Linked DNA regions of Homo sapiens. The protein of the gene in region 1 interacts with the protein of each later gene in a biochemical or structural test. Each region holds a gene or a part of one and is shown on either strand. Other genes may lie near its edges.

Region 1 (4,834 bases):
CAGAGCGAGAACAACAAGAAAAAAGATAAATAAATAAAAAAAATAAAAAGAAAAAAGAATTAGAAGTTGACAGTACACATAGTAGTTAAGAGCCCAGACTTGGGAGCCAAACTGTTCCAGTCACACTCAAACATTTAACCAGCTACCACAACGAGTACCTAACTCACAATGAGATAATTCATATAAAAAGTACTAAAAGATGAAGGCCATATGGAGCCATTTAAACCTTGTACAGATAATGCTAGCATTTGACCCTCACTTCTTCGGTTATAATTAAGTTGAGACCATAATCTTTTAACTTACTCTGTGATTTTTTTTTTTTTGGAGACAGGATCTTGCTCTGTTGCCCAGGCTGGAATATAGTGGTACCATCATGGCTCACTGCAGCCTCGACCTCCCAGGCTCAAGCAATCCTCCTGCCTCAGCCTCCCGAGTAGCTGGAACTACAGGTGCATGCCACCATGCCTGGCTAAGTTTTGTATTTTTTTGTAGAGACAAGGTCCCACTATGTTGCCCAGGCTGGTCTTAGACTCCTGGGCTTAAGCGATCCTCCTGCCTCAGCCTCCCAAAGTGTTGGGATTCCAGGCCTGCAGCACCATGCCCACCGGTGATTTTTATTGGGTTGAGGGAGAGACAGGTAGTTTCTTGGAATCATTGGGCTGAGACTATTCTTTTCCAGGCCCAAGCAGAAACAGAAGGCTGGCTGAAGAAATGATTCATTCAACATGACTGCATCCCTTTGCCTACTTAATAAGTGGTACAAAAATGCCACCCAAAGGGACCTGGCCCATTCTGCGGCTCCTGTTGTGGGCTAACATCCTTGTTCCATTGGCCAGTTTCATCCATTGCCAGCACAGCTTTTTGCCAAGGACTGAAGAACTATGCTGAGGCTCTTAAACACACCCCTCTCCACAGTCACCTGCTTTGGAAAGCAGAAGATGGACGTGTTTGCCCAGGGCAGCTGGCACAATTCTAGACCAAGCATGCTCTGTCCACATGCAATGAGACGCCTCCAGAAGACTCCTCCAGGGGAGACAGAGCCTCGTCTTGTGCCAGCCAGCCTCATCTCTCAGGAGGGAAACCGAAGGAATCCTGGCACCAAGTCCCCAGGTAAGAAAACATTAACCCACGCAAACGAGTGCCAGGGAAGGAGGAATAACCACAGGGCCGCGTTCCACTCACCATCTGGTGAGAACTGGTCCCTCTCGAACACAGTGATGCAGAGGACTTCCTGCTCCAGGTCTCGGATGAAGAACTGGCAGTTGGAATTCCACTTGGGGTTCAGAGTGTCCTGGATCGTCTTGGTGATGTGGCACTGGGAACCCATGGTCACCTCACAGTACGGGTTGCTCTTTCCTGGAGGGAACAAAAGCCTTCGCCAGGTGGAACTCACACCTCATTTTGATCTCCACTCTTTTTTTTTTTTTTTTTTAGATGGATTCTTGCTCTGTCGCCCAGGCTGCAGTGCAGTGGTATGATCTCAGCTCATTGCAACCTCCACCTCCTGAGCTCAAGTGATTCTCCTGCCTCAGTCTCCTGAATGAATAGCTGGTATTACAGGTGGCTGCCCCCATGCCTGGCTAATTTTTTATATTTTTAGTAAAGACGGGCTTTCACCATGTTGGCCAGGCTGGTCTCAAACTCCTGACCTCAGGTGATCCACCTGCTTTGGCCTCCCAAAGCACTGGGATTACAGGTGTGAGCCACCATGCCCGGCCGCTCCCCACTCTTAATAACTGCTATGCTTAATAAGTGTCATTCGGTGGAGAATCCGGGTGGAAACTCCCAGAAGTCAGCTTCATCCTTAAACTAAAAACAAATACTTAATTGAGTGGGCTTTGAAACTAGGCCCTTCCTGTCTCGTTACTTTGGCCTGATCTTGTGTCACATCCACTGTGAATGCAGCCACTCAGATCCCTCGGAGAAGCAGAATGGTAGAAAGGATGGAAAAAAAAACACAAAACCTCCAGGTTTTTAACAAGTGCTAGTTAAACCAATTCTGGAAGGAGATCAGGGAGTATGGAAATAGCACATTTGATCTAGAGCCAGGTGGGGGTGTGGGGAACCCGGACCCTACTCCCAACCCCAAAGCAGGAGCCGGGGGCGCCTCACAGCCTTACCATGTGACCGACAGGGTTTCAACTCGATGCCTTCAACCACGTTCACCATCAACCTTCCAATGCCTGTTGCCCTTTGGGAACGGACTATGACGGCAGGAAAAACACAAAATGCTTCATTTGAACGTGCCACACCTTTCCCATCTCTGTGAGCCTCACAATGCATTTCATGTACCTCTCCCGACTCAAAAGTAATTCTTCCCTCTCCTTAAACACTTGCTTCCTTGCTCCTGGAATTTGCCCTCCATCCCCATCTGCATCCCACCCCAAGCTCACTTCCATCTCATTCCATGCCCCTCCTCTAGGTCCAGGGGATTCTTCTATTCTGAGGATTTTCAGCCCAGCCAAATGGCCCTCCCTCCTGCCCAGCTGTGCAGGACACCCCGCGGGGCCATGCATTACCCAGGTACGCTTTCTCGCGCTTCTTTTTCTCAGTCTCTATGTAGAGTTCAGAAGCAGCTTTGATTTTCTGCACCCAGGCAGTCCTTGGACAGAAAAAGACAGAAAGTTGCCAAACAGAAACTCAGGAAAAAGGCTTCAGGTCTGTTCAAACACTGTTGCCAGGACTCTGTTTCTTTGTTCATTTGATTTTAACAACAAAGGCTCGGGAAAGAAAATCTGATTTTATGTCACGTGACGCTAATACTTATTCCTGCCATCGATAAGAAAGGCATGAGGGCCATTTCCATGGATGTCCTCAAGACCTGCGATGATGTCCCCGGGGAAGAAAATCTGTGATAGATGCTGTCTTGGAGGCAACATCGGGACACGACTCCTCTTCCTTCCTTACCGAAGAGCAGCACATATTTGCCTAATCCAACAAAGCCAGAAGGATCTCGCTTATGAAATCACGCAAAGAAAGAACAAAAACCACTTCCCAGATTGGGAACCACTTCACACGAAAGACCAAAACGCCTTGGGGGAAGGCATTTGTGGCCGCGGTTTTCTCCTTCATTTTTTCTGAGAACCATATGCACAAAAGCTTTAGCCAATTTTCTTGCTTGGTGCAAATGCTCTTTGGAATGATGCTGGCCTTGTGTCAAGTTCACCCTTCAGAAAATGATCTATTTCATTTGGCTCCAGGGCAGTGTCTTGAAGACAGATTGAAGCAAAATACCCACAGCCCTAGGTTCCAGAATGCCCATTTAAGTCAGCCAAGGTGAGGAGAGGTTTGGGTTTGCGTGGTCCTATTAACCCCGAAATTACTTTCCTATTGGTTTCTGCCACCTGGGAAGCCAGGGGAAACCTGAGATGCTCTGTTTACCTCAAAGAATGCGAAACATTTCTTAATAAAACAACAACAACAACAACAACAATGCCAGGTGCAGTGGCTCACCCCTGTAATCCCAGAATTCTGGCATTCTGGGAGGCCAAGGCGGGTGGATCCCTTGAGCCCAGGAGTTTAAGACCAGCCTGGGCAACATGGCAAGAACCCATCTCTACAAAAAAATATAAAGAATTAGCCAGGCTTGGTAGCACATGCCTGTAGTCCCACATACCTGGGAGGCTAGGGTGGGAGGATTACCTGAGCCCAGGAGGTTAAGGCTGCAGTGAGCTGTGACTGCACTACTGCACTCCAGCCTGGGTGACAGAGTGAGACTCTGCCTTAAAAAAAAAAAAAAAAAAAAAAACTCAAGCAAAATTAGTTTGAATCCATGTTATTTTGGAAAGGGCATGCCATGTGACAGATTTTTGAGAGGCTGTAGAAAAAAGTAATAGCCCCATCCCCACTCCCAGCTAGGGGTGATGGCATTGCCACTTGGGAAACATTGGCACCTGATTAATCACCCGCCCCTTGTGTGTCCTAGAGCCGTGGAGCCCTGGGGCCCATGCTGGGGAGGCGGCAGGTCTCACCTTTCATTTATGCTTTCTGCTCGGAGAGTATAGACGCGGTCAATGTGGGAGATGTGGAAGATGGGCTCGTCTCCAGAAGGGTCGGTGGGTAATTTTACTAGAACCTCATTTAGGAAAATAGGCTGGAAAGTAACACACAGGCATTACAAAGCGAGGCTGGGGGTCTGTGTGCTCCGGTAAACCGTGAGTGTGTGAGCACACTTATGCCAATGTGTTCTAGTAAACGAGACTGCAAGTCAGCGCGTGTGTGCACACTCGTGCGTGTGTTTCAGTAACCTAGACTGAGCATGTGTGTGTGTTTCTGGGTGTGTTCCAGTAAACCAGACTAAGGGCGTGTGTGTTTTCCAGTAAAGAATCCCAGAATAATAATTTTGGGTTAGCATCAACTTTTACATATTACAAATTATAAATATGATAAATATGGGTTCCCCCGCCCACGATTTTGCGGGTATGTTTTAAGTCTTTCAGAATAAGATCTGGCTGGTGTCGCTTTTCCTGGTGTATTCTAAACAGCAGTTTTCATCCACTTTACATCAAGCAATTCCCTCCAAAGATTTTCACATGAAGTTTCTAGTAACTATATAACTACATAGCTCTTTTTTTTCCCATAATAAAGCTAACTGCTGCCTCAGAGAAAATTCTTCTGTAAAAACACCCCCATGCAGACAAATTTAGAAAAACAACGTCCCGTGACACAAAGACACACAAACACAGCCATGCACGTATGAGCAGACCATATAAACAGCTGAGGGAAATTCTCCACGTATCAACTGTTTAGAGAGACTTTGCTAGAAAGGAGGGGGCTCGGATGTTTCAAGCTACCTGGAGAAGTCTGGCAGGGGACTTAGGACTGTTTGGAGGCG
Region 2 (4,834 bases), on another chromosome or scaffold:
GGCTCTGTGTACTGTGAGGAAGATTATCTGGTGAGTAAGGGTCACCTGGACCTGGAATTGGTTTCCATACTGACCCCCTTCTTGGTGGCCCATTGGAGTACCACCCATCATTCTCAGTTTGATAACAGCCTCCGTTCGTCTTGTCTTTTACTTTAGTTTTCAGGGTTTCAGGAGGCAGCTGAGAAATGCTGTGTCTGTGGTCACTTGATTTTGGAGAAGGTAAGTAAAGTGCTTTCAGCTGAGAAGTCTCACTGTGAGGCTGAGGAGCGGGATCAGGGACTAAATGGATATTGAGAGAAGGTTGGGGAAAGAAGCCTGTCACCAGATGAATCACTTTCATCCCATTCCTCCCCAGAGCAACTGTTTACAGTGGCTTCCCTCTGCCTATGGGATCAAGTCTGGGCTCAAAAGCCTGTCAACCCAGGCTTCTATGACCTAGCCCCTCCCTAACTCTGCAGGCACAGCCAGGCCTTCCAGCCTGAGCTAGGAGTGTGGGGTCCTGAGTCTTTTTTTTTTTTTTTTTTTTGAGACAGAGTCTCGCTCTGACAAAGTGGAATGATCTCGGCTCACTGCAACCTCCGCCTCCCAGGTTCAAGTGATTCTAGTGCCTCAGCCTCCCAAGTAGCTAGGACTACAGGCATGCGCCACCATGCCTGGCTAATTTTTGTATGTTTAGTAGATAAAAGGTTTTGCCATGTTGGCCAGGCTGGTCTCGAATTCCTGGCCTCAAGTGATCCTCCTGCCTCAGCCTCCCAAAGTGCTAGATTATAGGCGTGAGCCACCATGCCCAGCCTGGGGTCCTGAGTCGTCTTCTTTTTTTTTTTTTTGAGATGGAGTCTCACTCTGTTGCCCAGGCTGGAGTCCAGTGGTGCGATCTCGGCTTACTGCAAGCTCCGCCTCCTGGTTCACGCCATTCTCCTGCCTAGCTGGGACTACAGGCGCCCGCCACATGCCCGGCTAATTTTTTGGTGTGTTTTTAGTAGAGACGGGGTTTCACTGTGTTAGCCAGTATGGTCTCGATCTCCTGACCTTGTGATCCGCCCACCTCGGCCTCCCAAAGTGCTGGGATTACAGGCGTAAGCCGCCGCGCCCGGCCAGTCCTGAGTCTTAATCCCCTTTCTGCTACTGGTTAGAATCACTTGGGACTCAGTTTTCTTTTCTGTAAAAACAAAAGATAGGATTAAATCAGTGATTCTCAATCATGGTAGCCTAGCAGATCAGCTGGGAAGAACTAAAAAACAAAACAAAACAAAAAACAGTGTTTGGATCCCATCACCACAGATTGTGATAATAGGCCTGGAGGAGGGCCAAAGCATTGATGTTTTTTAAAAGCTGCCTAGGTGATCCTGATATGCAGCCAGAGTGAAACACTGCTGGCCTGAATGCTCTCTCAGGCACTTTTCAGGGTCTCCGCCTCCATTTTACGACTTCTTCACCGACATTACATAGCATTGTTCTGGGAGTATAGCAGCGGGTTGGATGAGGTTAATGGGAGTAATAAGGAGCATAATGGGCAGCTGGAGAGCTGGGACTGGAGGGAGACTGATTCTCTTGCTACCCCATGAGCCAGATCCTACAAGCAATGGGGAAGTCCTATCATCCAGGCTGTTTCCGATGCATTGTTTGCAACAAGTGCCTGGATGGCATCCCCTTCACAGTGGACTTCTCCAACCAAGTATACTGTGTCACCGACTACCACAAGTGAGTCTGCCCCTTGGGATGCAGTGTGGAACTGGGTCCAGGGATTCCCCAGCCTCAGCTCATCTCTTCCCTCTCTCTTTCAGAAATTATGCTCCTAAGTGTGCAGCCTGTGGCCAACCCATCCTCCCCTCTGAGGTCAGTATGTCTGGGTTCTCCTTCAGGGCAGCCAGTGCCACTGCCTTTGGGGAGGGGATAGGGACATGCTGCCTGGCCTCCTGCCAGAAGTGGTAGTGCCAAGGAATGTACTCTGTGAAGATTCCCGTGTGACTCTGCCTCTTGGGGTCACCACCCTGACCCTAATATCCGGGCCTGGACATGTCTGAAAGCCTAACTGGGCCCAGGCTCCATCTCTTCTATCCCAGTCCAGAGGAGGAGACTTTCTTTGAGGTCGAGGTCACCAGACTGCAGATGTAGGGGCTGGAAAAAGGTGGGAAGAATCCTCAGCACTGGTAGGAAGGGGTCAGAAATGATTTAAGCTGAGTGTAGGGGATGTGCCTATGGAGAGAAACCAAAAGCCAGTGAGGACCAGATCTTATTGGATCCCCTTGTTCCCAGCCTAGCCTACTTTATTTAGGCCTCCTGTCCCCTTCCCTTCCCTTTGCTTCCTGCACAACTGAGAGACGCAGGTAAGGCCAGGGCTGTTGTACAGAGGGAGTGTGCTCCATGGGTGCAGCCCAGTGAAGGAGATGAGAGTTCTGGTAGGATTTGCAGAAGCATCTTAAAACTACAGGTGATTGCAGAGAGACTCTGGGGGCATTTGTATGATCTTCCCATGGGGTGGGAAGGGTTGTATATGAGGGAAAGGTGGAGGTGAGGCAACATGCTGCTCTCATCTCCATGGGGGTCTGCATGTTTCAGGGCTGTGAGGACATCGTGAGGGTGATATCCATGGACCGGGATTATCACTTTGAGTGCTACCACTGTGAGGTGAGTGTTGGGGTTCAGCGGTGCTGGAGAAGAAGTGGAAATGGGGAGAGGGGAGGAGTCAAGTCCTGCAACAACCAGACATCTATGGGAGAGGTGTAGGGCATGGGAAACCAGAAAGATATTGTGACCTATCTTCAGTCTCTTTTTTGTCCTCCAGCCACTCTCTCTGGTCCAAGTAGCTTAGTCCTTTCTGAATCTGACTCTCCCAGAGTCAGGACTTTCTAAGACTAGGGACTCTGGTCAAACTTCTTGAAAGACAGGCTTGTGTCATTATTTCTGCTGCAGCAGTGACACCTGGTGTCCAGCTGAGGTATTAGTATTTTCTCAGATTGCTCTTCCATCCCTTCCATCCTTCCCTTCCCACCCCATCCCTTTCTTCCAGTTATTAGGAGTCAGGTGTTGAGCAGGGCAGACTCCTAAGATACCCTCAGTGTCCAAGGTGCCTAGGCTGAGGTGAACTAGGTGCCTTCTTCCCTAGGACTGCCGGATGCAGCTGAGTGATGAGGAAGGCTGCTGCTGTTTCCCTCTGGATGGGCACTTGCTCTGCCATGGTTGCCACATGCAGCGGCTCAATGCCCGACAACCCCCTGCCAACTATATCTGAGCTGCAATCACTGCTGCTGCTGTCACCCTGCAGACAAACTGCTGTGGCCAGTGGGCCCCTCTGAGGCCAGCCAAGGCAAAGAATGCACTCTGCAGGCCTGGCAGAAGAGTCCTCTGGGGAGGACCCCAAGGGCCGGAGACCCAAAGATCATGATATTCCAAATGGATTGTGGAAGAGAAACCTTATATTTACCAGGGTGGGGGCGACTGGCCTTTTTCCCATGTGTGCAGTCTGAGCTTAGGCACACACAGGAGGGTTCCAGGACTTTCTGAACATCTGATTCTGTATCTTCAGTATATATATTTTGTTTGTTTTAGAGATGGGATCTCACCATGTTGCCCAGGCTAGTCTTGAACTCCTGGGCTCGAATGATCCTCCCACCTTGGCCTCCCAAAGTGCTGGGATTATAGGCGTAAGCCACTGTGTCTGGCCTAGTGTATGATTATGCATGAGTCACGCAATGTTCTGGTCCTGGATTCCAGGAGTAGAGGACCTAGCTTTAAATCAATTAGTTTCAGCTAAACTGACTAGAACCAAATCAAAGTGTAATTCTCCCTCCAGCTCCCCCAAACCCCAGAGTTTTGGGGTTGTGGTTGATGCAGTGTGGGATGTCCCTGAGAGGTAGCAAGTCTAGGGTGGTGAGTTCCTGCTAGGCAACCAAATTTAAGCTCCTCACTTTTTGTGACACATGGTGTCAGATATGGGGTCCCGCACCTATATCTGGATGAAGAGGTAGAAACTCTGGACCTCATTAATGAGTTATTTCTTGGCCTTCTTCTAAGGACTAGGAGAGCTCCTTATCTGTCTGAGAATGGGGACCAGCTCTGAGTGGGGTTGCTGCCTGTATTCCCTGTTTCTCAGGAACTTACATGGGTCTGGGGAGGCTAGGTAGGTGATTGTACGTGGTTGCTCTTCTCCTTGGCTGGGGGAGGTAATGAGCAGATCTCTGTGGGTGTGGAGCTTGTTGGGGGGATGTCTAGGAAGCTTCAGCTTAGCCACATTCCCAAGTTTAGGTGCACTGAGCCATATAGCCCAGTGTATGCATGTGTGGGTGTGTTCATGCACACACACACTCTCTCTCTTGTCTCTCTGTCTCTCTCTCACTCTTTCTTACTCTCTTCTCAGGTCACTTGTACACTTGGTTTCCTAGTAGAAGCTCACTTGCCACCTCTCAGAGGGGTCCCGGATTGCATCCATCACAATCCCAAAACTAGAGTTGGGGGGAACTGGAGGGAGCAAAACACTGATTTGATACTAGTCAGTTTGCTTGAAACTAGTTCACCTAAAGCTAGATCTCTTAAAACCAATTTACTGAAAACTTGTTTGCTTAAAGTTAATGACTTAATGACTAATTTGCCAAAAGCTCAATTCCTATTTTGGTGTGTTTATATCCATTTAGGTGTCCTATTCTTTTTTGTCATGCTTTGGATATTTCAAGGATTTATATCTATTCATCCAAGAGTACTTCTGAGCTATTATCAGCAACATAAATTTATCAAATTTGCAGCACTTTGTAAATGATGAGATTGCTTCCTACCTTTATGGATGTCTTTTTCTATGTTATCTACCATTCAAAAACTTTTTTAAAAAGTTTAAAGTTTC
Region 3 (4,834 bases), on another chromosome or scaffold:
AATTTTCCTTCTCTTAATCCTCCTAGCCTCCACCAGGCGGTGTGAAGATGCCTAATGTACCCAATACACAACCAGCAATAATGAAACCAACAGAGGAACATCCAGCTTATACACAGATTGCAAAGGTTAGTTCATGTTAGTTGTATAAATTCATATTGGCCATTATAATATCAATAACATTTGCTTTCAGAGCAAAATAAATCTTTATATGGTTACATTTCTGTTGCTTAATTTTTAACTCACTTTCAAGTCTGGATTTGCTGTCTTGTCACCCTTCAAATACTCATTCCTCTTTTTGTCAGCTTATACCATTTGCTTTATTCCATTATTAGGAATTATTGAATTTATGTATCATCTCAGTGGATAAATTTTTATTGCCTTTGGTCCCACTTTTTAATGCACACTACCATTAAGGTAAAAATGATGGAATAATAGATATTATTGGGAGAGCGTTGCAATGGTAAAATAACAGTGTTAGGAGGTAGAAGATGGCAAAAATCTGAGAAGAAAGGAGATTAATAAGATGCCTGATAGCATGTAAGGGCAAATTGAGTTATAAAGAATTTCTTAATCACATCTTTTGACCTCATTCTCCTATAACATTTAAGATATTAGAAAATATTCTTGCATTGGTGGCCTTATATATCATTTAATCTGATTAATAGGAGCCAATTCAGTTGCCCTTTTTTCTATTGTTCATTTTCCTCAACTGTTCCCATTGCCTCTGTTCTTCACTCATTTAGGCATAGAGGTCATCTTAATTTCATTTTCCAGATTACCTAAAGATTGTGACTACTTTTACTAAGAGAAGTTTTCCTCTCCTAATGGACCCAACATTCCCACTGAGAGTTTCTGGAACCCAAAGACCAAATGGACCAAATATCCTCATAATATTTTCTGTAACTATGATCTTCAGTAAATTCCTGTACTTTGGAAGTGTGTTTGAATTAGGTTTCTCTCATAGTAGAGAAGTAGGAGTTAGCATATAAATGTTAAAGTATTTTATACTTCTGACAGTCTATTCACATATTGATATTTTTTATTTAGGAACATGCATTGGCCCAAGCTGAACTTCTTAAGCGCCAGGAAGAACTAGAAAGAAAAGCCGCAGAATTAGATCGTCGGGAACGAGAAATGCAAAACCTCAGTCAACATGGTAGTATCCAAAGAAATTTGAAATAAAAATAACTTTTAAATACTTTACATTATGTCTATACTAGCTCCTAGGTCATTTGGCCTGTGGATAAAACCCTACCCTGTTTTCCTGTTCTAACAAGGAGATCAGACACAGCAGATTGCCTGTTTGATACTCTGTAGCCTTCTAATCTTGGCTGATTTGCATAGTCTTTTGTTGATAGCTTAGAACAGTGTTAGCCTCATCACACAGAAAATGAATGTGAATATGATAATTTTTGCTTACTCTGAGGCCAGGAGCCTTTGATTCTGCAGTTAGGCCCTCCTTGGTTCTGTGGACTCTTTATGAGTACATTTGCATGTACCCTACATTTGACTTTTACCTGATTTATTCAGGTTAATTTCAGATTATCTGCCCCAGTCCTCGCAAGTATTTTGTCAAATCATGTTAGAAAAATTGGAAGCCTAAGGTATTCATATGATGCCAAAGAAATAAGTGGTGAATTGTTGCAGTGAATTCTATTAAGTTTGTGCCTGCCAAAGCACTTCAAAGGAGTCTCTTAGGGAAAGCTAGCAGTCTCTGAGTAAGAAGAGATAAAAGAGCTAGATAAGTCATTGTTAGGATGTCTGGGATAGTGATGCAATGCAAAGCTAGAACAATAACAATATACAGAACTATTTCTTTTTAACTTAGAATGTGTAAGTCTAGGGCCTCATGAGAACACATTTATCCTGGGTCATTTTCTTGCTTGCAGCATCAGAGGTAGCATCTATAGAAGGAGAAACTAAAAGTTGAACTGGGACCAATGTTTCTGAAGTACCTGTAACTAAAATCCATCCTATTTCTTTAGCACTGGCAAATACAAACTATTTCTATGAGAGTTATGTTAGTAAAGACAGTAACAAAGAGTAGGAAATTAACAATTAGACTGCAGTATGTTAGCACATTTTAGTACTTTTCCCCTCTTAACTCATACTTAAATCATCAATACAATCCTGTGAGGGGTGATAGAGTTTTTATTCTCATTTTACAGATATGGAAACTAAGGCTCGGAGGAGAGAGTAAGTTGCCCAAGGCGACCTTGCCAGTAAGTGGCTAGCCACTTCTGGTTCCAGAGCCTCTCTTCTTTACGAGTATTCACTGCCGCTTCTCAAATAGTATGAGATTGGTATGAGAAATGAACTATATGAAATTTGAATAGTATGATAAATGGAACACAGGAGACTCATTGGGGAGAATCAGAAATAGGTTATTGTTCTTTCTATAAAAATTACCCTGGTCTGGGAAAAGTAGGTAAAATTGAATTTTTAAAAACTGTGGGATATAACATCTAAAATCGGGAAATGGCCTTAGGTGCTGTTTTTACCCGCTATTTTCATGTTTTGACTTCTTTATTTTAATTTTTTATTTCCCCCACCATTTCTCAAGTCTTATTTTTAATCTGGTTTCTTTATGTAGACACATTTTTTTCCCTTTACAGTTTGAATTTGTTTTTCTCTGCATTTTTAAAGGTTCTATAATTCTTCAGCTTCCTTATCATGACTGTTTCATGTTTTCTTTGTTGTAGGGTTTTCGTACATGTATCTTTTGGATATTATTTTTTCCCAGATTTTGAGTATTCTAAATTTGATTCTTTGGTATTGGTTTAATCTTGGACTTAACAGAAAACTTGAAAAAATTAGAAGCTAGTCTTTCTCCACTTGAGATAGGAATTATAACAGAATTATATTTGAAGATTTAAGATGCTGAGGAGAAAATTGAAGTTTAAAAACTGGATGGCCCTTTCATGCCAGCCAGACTCTTTGGACTGTGAAATAAATCTGTTTTAGGGTAGAAGCACTGGATATGTGCTTTCTTTTTGTTTCTTGTTTTTTCTGTACATAAATGGTTCCTGCTAAACATGGTATGATATGACACTGGAAAATTATTTTACTATCTAATGTGCTCTAAGGTGATGATATTCTGAGAAAATTTTTTAAAAATCTAAAGCTTGTCTTTCAGAGTTCTAGGAATACAAAGATATAGTTCTACAGTTTTTCTGAACTTTTGTTAACATAATAGAGTTTTTCTTTATTATGAAACAAAAAATAATATCACATTTGTTATAATATAAATAACCTTTTCTTTTTCTAAAAAAAATTTACAGGTAGAAAAAATAATTGGCCACCTCTTCCTAGCAATTTTCCTGTCGGACCTTGTTTCTATCAGGATTTTTCTGTAGACATTCCTGTAGAATTCCAAAAGACAGTAAAGCTTATGTACTACTTGTGGATGTGTGAGTATACAACAATTTACATCTTTGCTTAGAATTTGTATTTTTGTTGTCAAAATCCGCATTTTTATTTCAAGGATAGTATAGCAAACCAGTCTTCTTTTTCTATAGATAAAGCTTAATAATCATGATTTCAGAGTGAAACATATCCTATTTAGGTACTTCAGAATTGTACTATATGTGACAATGTAAGTCCTTGGCTGAGAAAAACTTGTATGTTGAGAACTGGCATTCTTTTGAGGAAAAGACAACTTCTCTGTCATGTGGGTAAAATTTTATAAGATTCTTTTTCCTTGAAAGATGTTATCTAGACATGATTTGCTTGGAAAAAATAGTGCATACTAATTTTATGCAGAGGAAGGCCATTTAAAAGAATTCTGTTAAATGTAGGCGTTTTAGCTATTTTTAAAAGGGCATAAAATTATTACATAAACTAAGTGTTCTTTTTATAGCTTTGAGTACAGTTTACTTTTTGTTTTCAATTGCGATACTTTTATTATTGAAAGTGCTTAATTAATACAGGACATTTTGTTGAACGGAACATTAGAATATACGTTTGGGGCTCTGATGCTTACATCACTTTGAGTATAATAACTCATGGAATACTGAAACAAAATGTCAAGCCGTTAACAGTTTTACTCTGTGTGCACAGACCTCCCACTTACTCTCTGTTTCATTTTTATTCCAAACAGTAGTCTCAGCCTCATTTTGATACCCTGTCAGAAGGGGAGGTAGCTATTGAGGGTTCTCACATGCACAACATCTGGGTTAATGGATAATTTGTAGGGTACATTCTTGATGGAGGAAATTTACTTGTTTTTACTTTATGATTAATGAGACTACCACCCTTCCCTTAATGGATGAGATAATTTTCCTTAAAATCTTTTAGGAGCATTCTTCATGTATGTCAAGTTGTTTTGGAATGTGAGAAGTGTTTCCTAATGGATAGTCTATTTTTAACTCTTCATTAGTATTTTTCGAGATATTCTTGATCTAATATCTTTTGCTGAATCCTCAGTGTCAGTAGTATATATTTTTAATATTAAATGTCTGATTCCATATATGTACATGCTAACCAACTCTTATTTAATCAATATAATATATGCATTTATATTTTATATATGTTTATTTTTTTAAATGGGCAGAAATTGTCCTAGCATTTTATTTTATTTTGAGACAGAGTCTTGCTTTGTTGCCTAGGCTGGAGTGCAATGGCACGATCTTGGTTCACTGCAACCTCCGCTTCCCGGGTTCAAGTGATTCTCGTGCCTCAGCCTCCTGAGTAGCTGGGACTACAGGCACATGCCATCACGCCTGGCTAATTTTTGTATTTTCATCTATACTTGGAATAATTTTCATGAACTTTAAAGTGTAATTATACATATATTTTATCTTTCTTTCAGTGGATTAGGAAATAACCTAATTTG
Region 4 (4,834 bases), on another chromosome or scaffold:
GGCATTTAACTGATGCCATGAGATGTTGCAGATTCTGCATCCAGAGGGTGGAGAGGGCCTCGAGGAAGGAGAGGGATCAGGTAGAGGATCTGTAGAGGAGGCAAGGAGCCTGTGAGAGACCAGGAACTCCTGGATGGCAAGGAGGGTGAGTGAGAGGTCCTCTTCCACACCTAGTGGTTAAGAGCGCAAATCTGGAACTAGACAGAGCTGTGTGGCCTCTCTGTTCAGTTTCTTCTCTCTATCATGTGGGTGGCGACTATACGAAACTCGCAGGGCTGTAGGGCTGCAGTGGAATGACTGTCAGCTGTCATGGTTTGCATTTGCCATAGGGCACGGCCCAGGAAGGTGCGCCAGAAGTGTCTTTTGGGTCGATGGTGGCCAGCTGGTGAGTGGCACGGGCTGAGAGGGATGGGGCTGTGTCTGCCCAGGCCCATCTGCAGTGCCCAGTGTGCTTCCAAATACCCAGAAGGGCTCGTTTTGTCACAGTGGAGATTGTGGACCGGGAATGCCAGCCGTGGCCCTGGCCTGGCCCTGCCTCTGTGTGATCCCGGGAGAGTCTCTTGCCCTTTCCGGGTGGCGGATTCCTCAGCTGAAAAATAGGGATTGGGGCCAGGGGATCCCTGGCTCTGCTTCTGAGTCCTGCAGAGTCAAAGGACACTCCAAACAGGGGCTGGCCCTGCCCCTGCACCGAGTGTCTCTGGCCGCAGCCTGGGCATTCGGAATCAGCCCCTTGTTGCTGTTCGTTTCTGCTTCATGTGCCAGGCCATTGCCGCCCCCCTGCTCATGCCCTGGGCCTGACCTCAGGCCAGGTGGGACCTCCCTCCTCCTCCTGAGCCTGAGAGCTCTGCGTAGGCCCGGGGGGGAAGCCCTTGGTTTCTCCCTCATGGCTCCTGTTTGAGCAGTTGGGGCTGCCAGAGGTGTGACCGACCACAGGCTTTTAAATGTGGACAAGGTTAAAATTAATAATAACCTTGCCAGGCATTTGTAGGAGTCCTTTGCAGAGCACCTGCATGGACATTAGTCACTAACATGTATGGCATACCTAACATGTACTGGACTGTCCGCTCAGTACTTTGCCCACTTTACAGATGAGAAAACTGAGGCACAGAAAGGTTACCAGGACTTACGTAAAGTCATACAAAAGACAGAGGTGGGGCCTGAAGCCTGGCCCATTCAACCCCCAAACATCCCTTTGTTAACTGGCCAGACCTCTGTTGCACTTTGATAGCCTAGACATCTGGGTAGATGGGCACAGAGAGGTTAGCTTGCCCAGGCTGCACGCCTAGTTGGGTCTCAGTGGGAGGAGAAGGGGTGAGAGGAAGGTCCCTGGACCCTGGCTGGAGCCCGGCCCCCCGCGTGCCTCTTCCTTCCAGGTGGCCGACCAGATGACGCTGCTGCAGAACTGCTGGAGCGAGCTGCTGGTGTTCGACCACATCTACCGCCAGGTCCAGCACGGCAAGGAGGGCAGCATCCTGCTGGTCACCGGGCAGGAGGTGACCAGTCCCTCGGCCCCGCCCCTGGGCCCCGCCCTGGCCCCGCTGTGCACTTCCAGGATTCAGGGCCCCGGAGAGGAGGACCCAGGCCTCTCGGGGCTGGCTCTGGGCACCCTAATTATCAGCCCTTTCCCCACGTTCATGGAACACCCACTGGCCCAAACCCTCTGTGAGCAGCCCTGGCCCAGGCTTGAGAGGCGCCGGCCCCTGGGAGCCCTGCTCTTGGGGAGCAGCTCAGGGGGTGTGGGCATGGTGAGGAGAGGCTCATGGAGGAGGAGGTGATGGTGGCCCTGGGTCTGGAAATAACACACTGGAGTTGGCTGGGGAATGAGGGATGAGGGGGGCAGTCCCCACGTCTACCGCAGGCTCAGAGAGGGTGGAAGTGTGGAGCCCCCGGGCCCTGCTGGTGCCGGTGTGGGGGTGGCATGAGGTGAGAGATGAGGGAGGCTAGGGGGTTGCTAGTGCTGGCTTAGCAGGCAAACCTTGCAGGCCCTAAATCTCGAATGAATGAATGAATGAATGAATGGGCAAAGGGCTCCAGAGAGCTCAGAGTCGGAATTTGGGCCCCCTTAGAGCAGGGAATGAGGATCTGGGGAGTAGAAAGTCCAGATGCAGCAGGGGTCCGGGGAGAGCTTTAGGAGGAGGAGGGACATGGCCAGGTGGTATCTGAGGAGGCAGGCGGAGGGGTCAGGATGGGAGGTGGGGGGCCAGGGTGGGGACACGGGGGCACAGCCACGGAGGAAGACTCACCTGGAGAGATGGGCTGTAGGGAAAGAGAGGGAGGGGGGGAGGCAGAGAAGGGGGTTGATGGCCAGGGTCCAGCCTGCTGGCAGGAGTGCCACTCTCAGGTGGGGACACAGGAAGGGCCGTGGGGTCGGTGGGTGCTGTGGGGTGGGGAAGACAGACTCTGCTCCCAGCTCCAGCCCTCCCAGGCCCCCACTGCTCATCTCCAGCTCTCTCCTCGGTGTCACAGGCCATCGGGGCAGGAGGACGGGACGGGCAGCACTGGTCCCAGGGGGGTGTCTTTGGGGCTCCCTGTGAGCGCAGGTGCCTGCAGTCTGCATGAAGTGTGGGTGTCCGCAGGCTGGCTGAGTCTCTGTGGCCATGGGAATGCCTGTTTGTGTGTGTGTGTGTGTGTGCCTGCCTGTGTTTTATTGTGCAAAATCTCCACACACATCAGTGTGTGGGTGTCACTGTCTTCCCATCAACCCGTAAATGTGATCACATACATGGGTGTATGTGTTGCCGTGAGTGTGAGCGTACAAGGGCGGGTGTGGCCGTGTGCACACGTGTGTGCCTTCACTTCACAGAGTGGGCGACCCCATGACTGTGCTCGTGTGTGTGTGTGTGTGACTCTGAGCTGAGCTGTGACCCAGCGTGTAGGTGTGAACATGGGGGCTCTGGGAAGCCATGTGGATGTGTCTGTGTGTCCCCACACAGGCCTGCCCTCCCCAACCCCTCCCCTCCCAGCATGTAGAGGGGCCCCCTGAGCTGCTGGTGCTGCTGGGCCTGGTGCTGGGGTTTGTGTGTGAAGGAGGGGTGGACGCGGGCAGAACGTGGGTGCCTCAGCTCCGGGCTTGGCGGGTTGAGGAGAGCTCGGAAGGGTGGGCCCGGCAGCGTCCCCGGGGCTGTGCAGATGTTACCCGTGCCTGGCTCGGCACCAAGGCTGGGCCCTCCTGACGCCAGCCCATCTGACCTGCACCTCCAATCCATGCCCTCAGCCCTGCATCCCCCATCAGAGAGCCACCTGCCCGGACCCACGTCCTCTGACTGTCCCCCGCCCCGTGCCCTCTGCCCCCAGGTGGAGCTGACCACAGTGGCCACCCAGGCGGGCTCGCTGCTGCACAGCCTGGTGTTGCGGGCGCAGGAGCTGGTGCTGCAGCTGCTTGCGCTGCAGCTGGACCGGCAGGAGTTTGTCTGCCTCAAGTTCATCATCCTCTTCAGCCTGGGTGAGTGCAGCTCCAGTGACAGAGAGGTGGAGACAGCCAGAGGCGGGTGGGTGGGAGGGTGGGTGAGGCTGGAGAGGTAGCCCTGCTGTGGCCAGAGTGGCCACGAAGGAGCCTCGGGGAGAAAGGACCCCTCCCTTACTCATTCAGTGAACAAAGGTCTGAGGGCCCCCGGCCAGGGCCTGGCTCTTAAATGGGGGCTGCTCCCGCTCTGGTGGCCCATGTGACTTTAGGATTTTTATTCCAGGCTCCCATCCTGGGGTCCCTGTTTTCTCTAATCCCTGGATCTAGGGGGCCCCAATTTTGACTGTACCTCCTGGGGGCCTGGACCCCTTTGCTCATGCACACGTGCATCCATTCATTGACTCTACAAACAGGCACCGAGAAATTGCACTGGAGAAGGCACTGGGAATACCGCTGTGAGCAAAAACCCCCCAAGCCCAGCCCTTGTGGTACTGACCTTCTCTAGGGGAGACAGATCATGAGCATAATATGATTAGTAAGACGTAGGTTCCTAACACGATTAGGCAGGCATAGCCAGGAAGGTTGTGACCAGTGCTAAGGAGGAAAAGAAAGCAGAGGAGAGGCAGAGAGCAGGCCTGGCCCAGCCCAGCCCGGCCACCCACCTCACTCCCCAAGCACTTGGGGGGTCTCCTTCCCGTTGCCCTCCTGACCCCAACCCTGCCTGGGCCACTCCAGTCTGCACCCTCACTCCCTGGAAAGCCATCACAAATGCCCTCCCCATGCCCAGAGATGCTGAGGACATAGCTGTCCCTTGCCAATCGTGAAAAGACCTACAGCCTGGGTGGTTAGGGCTGAGACAGAGAGATGGGTGTGGCTTAGGGAACCCTGGGTGGGGAGCAGAGCTCTTTCTGGAAGGCTTCCTGGAAGAGGGGCATCTGAGCAGGGTTTTGGAGGATGAGTAGGAGTTTTCTGGGGGAATGAATTATTTTGCAGTGATGCAGGTGGGATGGGATAGAGATGAGTGAGTGCTTCATCACCTGGAGAGGGGGCAGGATTAAGGTATTGTCTTGGTGGCTGGCATTATAGTCACAGTCTGCGAGGGGCATGCCTGCCAGAGAGAGGGAGGAGTGGGGAGTGGGGAGTGTTGTGGAGGCAGAGGGGATTAACGAAAAGTGGGAAGCCCAGTGCTTGGGTGGGATTGGTGACATCCTCCATGCCATGTGGCTGGGTGCAGTGGGCTGGGTCTCCCGATTCTGGCAGAACAGGCTGGTAACTGGAGGGCTTATCTGCAAGGCCACCTTAAGCCACCTCTCAGGACACCAGCCGGGGCTCTGCAGGGGTCAGCAGGGGACAGCCATTGGGGTGGGGGGCGGGTAGGATCTTGGGCAGCCAGTTAGGAGCTGTGGCCTGAAATCCTTACAGGAGCCTCAG

Evidence for each region.
Region 2: the proteins of ITSN1 (region 1) and AJUBA interact in a test that uses a peptide from one of them, tested with the Homo sapiens proteins (one large-scale study listed by BioGRID).
Region 3: the proteins of ITSN1 (region 1) and SCAMP1 form a complex in vitro, tested with the Homo sapiens proteins (one study listed by BioGRID).
Region 4: the proteins of ITSN1 (region 1) and NR5A1 interact in a surface display test, tested with the Homo sapiens proteins (one large-scale study listed by IntAct).

Annotation. Positions count from the first base shown.
Region 1 is NC_000021.9:33,882,809-33,887,642, reverse strand, and holds part of ITSN1 (intersectin-1), read right to left. Parts: intron 4,094-4,834; coding exon 3,972-4,093; intron 2,603-3,971; coding exon 2,520-2,602; intron 2,205-2,519; coding exon 2,121-2,204; intron 1,357-2,120; coding exon 1,183-1,356; intron 1-1,182. UniProt on the Homo sapiens protein: Adapter protein that provides a link between the endocytic membrane traffic and the actin assembly machinery. Acts as a guanine nucleotide exchange factor (GEF) for CDC42, and thereby stimulates actin nucleation mediated by WASL and the ARP2/3 complex.
Region 2 is NC_000014.9:22,971,841-22,976,674, reverse strand, and holds part of AJUBA (LIM domain-containing protein ajuba), read left to right. Parts: coding exon 1-30; intron 31-156; coding exon 157-219; intron 220-1,570; coding exon 1,571-1,701; intron 1,702-1,784; coding exon 1,785-1,836; intron 1,837-2,559; coding exon 2,560-2,628; intron 2,629-3,106; coding exon 3,107-3,232; 3' UTR 3,233-4,834.
Region 3 is NC_000005.10:78,415,494-78,420,327, forward strand, and holds part of SCAMP1 (secretory carrier-associated membrane protein 1), read left to right. Parts: intron 1-26; coding exon 27-125; intron 126-1,047; coding exon 1,048-1,156; intron 1,157-3,281; coding exon 3,282-3,410; intron 3,411-4,834. UniProt on the Homo sapiens protein: Functions in post-Golgi recycling pathways. Acts as a recycling carrier to the cell surface.
Region 4 is NC_000009.12:124,489,689-124,494,522, reverse strand, and holds part of NR5A1 (steroidogenic factor 1), read left to right. Parts: intron 1-1,373; coding exon 1,374-1,493; intron 1,494-3,294; coding exon 3,295-3,442; intron 3,443-4,834. UniProt on the Homo sapiens protein: Transcriptional activator. Essential for sexual differentiation and formation of the primary steroidogenic tissues. Binds to the Ad4 site found in the promoter region of steroidogenic P450 genes such as CYP11A, CYP11B and CYP21B.